Linked DNA regions of Homo sapiens: region 1 is linked to region 2. Evidence: fine-mapped expression QTL. Tissue or cell type: whole blood. Region 2 holds a variant in brackets; the other region holds the start of a gene. All regions are shown on one strand. Distances are between the middles of the regions.

Region 1 (2,600 bases), 210 kb before region 2:
GGGGACAGTCAGGGGCCAATACACATTAGTGACAATCTTAGCATATGAAATTCCAGTGATCAGCGACTCTTTAGTGCTTGACTCAGTTTTTACAGAATGAATCTTATTCTACCTTAATTCCACATGAAATGGGTTTGGTCTCCCTTGTAGAATGCAGGAGACTTTGAGCCTGGGTTGGAAGGCTGGTGACCTTGGGTAAGTCACTTCCCATATCTGAGCCTCTGCTCCTTTGTCTGTGAAAGAGTGGTGCTTATACCTATGTTGTTAGGTTGTTGGGGGATATAAAAGGGTAATAACAGTTGCTACTGTTTATTGAGTGCTTGCTATGCACCAGAGACTGTGCTAAGCTTAGCTTTGCATTTTTCTTTGATCTTTTCAAGAGCTCCTCTCATTCCCGATGTTCCTTACCCTGCAATATTTTTTCCCATAGCACTTTACATTTTGTATGATATTATATAATATACTTACTGTGCTTATTTTTGGTCTTCCTCTCCCAGGGCCTCTTGCCTCGTACAACTCCAGGGGGCACCATTCACAATGCTTTCTACTCCAGGGGTGCTTTTTACTAAGAATATTAGCATGAATGGTGGAAACTGCTGGAGTTGTGTGATGTGGAGCCCCGGGAGCTTCAGAAGGTCAGGGATTTTTGTGTGTGCCAGTTCTGATCATTGCTGTATCCCTGTACCCAGAACGGTGCTAGACCTATAGTAAGCATTCAGTAAATATCTGTTGAAAGAATGAATAACATAGCCTCCAAAGAGAGCTGATTTTACTATCTAGGAAACTGAGGCTCAGTCTGACTTATGAATTTGCCCAGAGCCCCACAAGCCAATGACCCACCCAGCTGTTCTGCCTCCAGTGTGCCTGCTCTGCGTGGCTTTGCTAAGCTGCATGCCTTTAACTCCTCGCATCGTCTCTGCCACCAAGTAACTGCTCAACAAATATTGATGCTTTTCCCTACATGGGTCAGGCCCTCTGCTAGACTATCCCAGTAGAGTGACAAACCATCATATAGCTGTTGATTCCAGAAACTGAATTAAATTGCACAGTGCAAAAAAAGGGAGGATCTTAAGTTTTTGGAAGAAAAATCCCTAACCCAAGTGCTAATGTTTGGAGTTTGCAGAAGCCTCTCAAGACTTACCAACCCGATTACTTTTCCTGCTGCCTTCCCTTTTGTGAGCGTTTCTTCCCCTTTTTGCTTGCAGTGAGTTCTGCTCTCCTGTAGGCTACAATGTGTCAGTTGTTATAAAATCCGGGAGGCGGAGTCTAGTGACGTGAGCAGTGGGGGAGAGCTCAGCCAGCCCTGCAGGGCGAGCAGTCCAGCCTTGTGTTCACCGGAGCTTAAGCGTTGCAGCAGGAAAACTTCCATCTCGCTCTCCTGGCTTTGATCCTCACTGGACATCAGACCAGAGGCACCGAAGGGAGGGAGGATGCGAGATGACCGGCCCTTTGGCAACCTGACCATCGACTTAGCAGAGCCTTCAAAAGCAAGCCAGGGGCTGGCTGCACGACCAAAGAGGCGCCGCGCCTCTCGTGGATGTGTGTGTGTGAGTGATCCAGCGAGTGTGTGTGCGTGTGAGGGTGTGTGTGTGTATGCCTGTGTGCACAGCACAACTGTGTGCGTGTCCCGGTGAGTGTGCCTGTGCATGCGTGAGTGTGTGTACGTGTGCATGTGTGTGTGAGTGCGCTTGGTTATTACTATTATTATTATTTTTGGAAGAAAAATCTTTGAAAATCTGGGGCAGGTTACTGTGCTCCTAGGGTGATTCTTCTTTTGCAAGAGGAGCTGACCAGGGCAAGCTACTAGAGCCATTTCTCGGCAAGTAAAGAGATTTTTCCTTCCAGAAGGAGAAGGATTTTTCTCCCTGCTCTGCAGCCAAGTGAAAGAGATTAGTCCCTAAACCTGTGAAATCGACCAGAGCTGTGTGATTACCAGGGCTTGAGAGAGGACTCGAAAAGAAAAGGAGAAATAAATCAAACAGCCTGTCAGTTCCTTTGGCCACGTCAGAAGATGTCATCTCAAACTAAGTTCAAGAAAGACAAAGAGATCATTGCTGAATATGAAGCCCAAATAAAAGGTGAGATGCGGGCTGGGAGAGTTTTCCTTCTCCTCCCCTTTCGTTTTTCTCTTGTTCTGGTTCCCATCCCCCGCTGCCCCCCGTTTTCCTCTCTGCCATTATGAAATGTTATGCATCAATAATCTTTTTGTGAGGAGTAACAGTGGCAGCCGCACAAGTCCGGACTGGTTTCAACTGCAGATAGCGCTGGGGCTGGGAGTGTGGATTATGGAATGGGCAGCAGTCTCTGCATTGCAGGTGTGTGAGGAGGATCCTATGCCTGACTTTAGGAGTGTCGCTGATACCCCATCATCTTGGCGGTGACATGTCACTCTAAGGCCATTTTGATAGTCACTACCTCCACCCCTTCCCTGCCATGGTAAAAGCCCTTTAATATTGGGGTATTTTTTTACCATCTGCTCTTTTTTTCCTCCCCCTTTTTGGTTTCTGTTGGTGGTGGTGGTTTTGCCTCCGCCTCTTTCTCTGGGCCGGAATTCACATGCATGTGCACAGCGAGGCAGCATCCCTGGGCGGCACTTCTTT
Region 2 (2,600 bases):
TATTTTACACCAAATTCTGCAAATAGTGAAACAGATGGGGGATGAATTGAGCTGTCCCTCACTTCCTCCTAATTCCTAGAACTCACGCAGAGAAGTTTGTTCCAGCAGAGTGTGGGAGAGGAGATCTGTAATCAAACACTTGGCCAGGTCTCAGGGTCTTCCCTCAGGGGAAAGTTGAGGGTTTGTGTGTTTTGTTTTGTTTTGTTTTGTTTTGTTTTGTGTTTTAAATAAAGCCCTCTGAAGTGTTGTCTTCCACACCCTCCTTGACCTAGGGCCTGGGAAATCCAAGCTGAGTTTATCAGACCTCCCACTTAGACACCCTGCATTCAACTGCAGCTACCCTGCGTTCAATTGCAGACATAGCCCTGTGTACTCTGGTTCCTGGTCAAGGTCAAAGACAACTTTGTTAGTAAACTAAAAGTCTCCCCTTACCTCCAAAATCATGATTTAACTTGTGGAAATTGTTGCTAACAATGTCTCTGTCCTATGGCTCTCTCTGTATCTTCCATGGACTCCCACACGAGGTGGATATCATTTCTGGATGGTTATTTGAGCAGGATCCCCTCAGCTAAGTTGCTGTTGACCTTGTATAGAGGAACTGGTGTTGCATATGGGCTGCAGCATGTTATATTTTTCTCACACTTCAGAACCTTATCTTAGAATAGACCAAATTCATAATAACCCTGTAATTCAGGATGGCCAGATGTGATAATGCACTTAAGTTTAAAAGCGTATTGCAAATGTCAAAGCAAGATGCAAATATAAGGTTTGATTATTGTGATTCAAATGAATGTCTGGCTCCCCTTACCCAGGTTGACATGCCCTCGTGGTCTGGATTAGAGGTGAAATCACTTGAGATCTTGTTCAGGCAGATGCAACGCAGTACACAGCCCATGAATAGCCTCCAAGGGCCCGACTGGCATTGCCCTACAGCATTGCCACCATTTGGGATGTTGACCTCCAAGTCTATTAGGTTATCTAGGGGAATTTTTCATCACATCCCTTTAGTTGCAGG[A/G]TAATTTTGAGGCTATTTCCTGTGTTGCCAACGTGTGTTAATTTTCATCTTGATTAAAAGGCAGAAAGGGGACATTGGTCTCTGGTTTCTCTTTCTTCCTCTCTGTGGCTTTCTCTGTTCCTGTTTTCCCTGCCTCTCTTTCTTTCTTTCTTTCCTTTTTGCTCTGCATCTGAGCAGCAGAAGAGATGGAAGGCTTAGGCTGCCCCACTTTCCTTGGCCGAGCTGCCCCCCTGCTCCCCACTTTGTGCCCCACCCAGCACTTCAGTAAGTCGATATAGATTTGATATTGTGCAAAGTTGGGATAGCTACGTTTCCTTGTCAGAGATTCCAGACAGTGCACAGAGCACCACACAAAGAAAGAAATCCTCGTGTGATTCACACAGTCCTTTGCTTTCTGGATTGGGCAGGAAAAATGGGAAAACATATGCTATTTCCCCTTTTTTCCACTTTGTAGAATTTAAGAAAAAACAAAAAACACTTAGGACTTTCTTTTAAGGAAACCCTCCAGTTGGGCACCGTAGGTTTTTTGATATTGAGTGTCCAACACCTGCTTTTAGAGTCTCCGCTCTTCCTGGCCATGAGAATTTAACAGATAATTTAATGTTACTTCTGGATGTTCTATGATAAAATCACTTTCATACTCACACTAGATCCTTGAGAGTAGGAAGAGCTGAATTTTACCACCAGCCTCAATCACATTTTATTTGTGTGACCTTAGGCAAGTTTCTTCATCTTTTGTGGGCTCACTGGCCTTGTATGTAAAGTGAATTGAATATTCTTTCCCAGCCTCACAGGGTTGTTGTGAGGTTGTCATGCAATGTGATAAGGAAATGATCTGGGAATGTTCAAAAACAAGCCAAACACTATGAAAACAGGGTGACAATGTTGCTATCATCAAGTTATTTCTAATCCCCAAACTTAAAACCTTTGGCCTTGTGTCACATTTTTGACACTCTCTTTTGCCTTTGGTATTTGAAAATTTAAGAGCAGCTCTTGTAAGAAATCCCACCCCACATACATACATCCTCAAAAAAAAATAAGTAATTTTTGAAAAATAAATGACATGGACTTAGCTAACCAAATTGACATAGATCCAAGATGGGCTTGAAAGAATCTTGCCTGTTGTTTCTTTTCAAAATTTTGATCTGTGCTGTTATTTTGTTTCCATTGTTTGGGTGGCATGATATTTGGATTCACCTGGTTTTTGCCCATGCATGTACTGGAGCTAGCAGCATTTGCTCAATACTCAAACACCTAGGAGAAGTTGGTTAGAGGTCCCTGGGGATGGCTGGCTTACCGAAGGAGACAGGTACCACAAGCCCAGTCAGCAGAGGCAGCATGAATCTCATTAATCCTGATTGGCTGCATAGTCTGGAAGATTTCTTGCCCGCTCACAGAAATCAATCAAGACTTGGGGGACCAGGTCTTTGCTTGTCATGTGTGGACATTATCTGTGCCTGGCTGAGTCCCCACTTGTTGCTACCCAAATTTTGAACCAAGCCATTTGAAAATGAACTGCCTCTCTTGGTTAGGGGCCCTCTTCTTAACCTTCAAAAGGCCTTTGCCCCAGAAGGCTGGCACCATT

Evidence for each region. PIP is the estimated chance that this variant, and not a neighbour inherited with it, causes the effect.
Region 1: it holds the start of SRGAP3, and the variant in region 2 is fine-mapped to the expression of SRGAP3 in whole blood (TOPMed, PIP above 0.99).

What each region holds. Positions count from the first base shown.
Region 1 is chr3:9,248,363-9,250,962 of GRCh38, reverse strand. SRGAP3 (SLIT-ROBO Rho GTPase activating protein 3) reads left to right here and starts at 1,317. Exons shown (of 22, transcript NM_014850.4): 1 at 1,317-2,078. The coding sequence starts at 2,012. It overlaps SRGAP3-AS4 (SRGAP3 antisense RNA 4), which reads right to left and starts at 1,207. Exons shown (of 3, transcript NR_146969.1): 1 at 1,142-1,207. RefSeq lists an enhancer at 1,299-1,538.
Region 2 is chr3:9,034,182-9,036,781 of GRCh38, reverse strand. The region is part of intron 11 of SRGAP3 (SLIT-ROBO Rho GTPase activating protein 3); the gene reads left to right. Among named protein-coding and RNA genes, the nearest start is that of RAD18, 72 kb to the right of the region's middle. The variant A/G (reference allele first, on the strand shown) is at 1,016.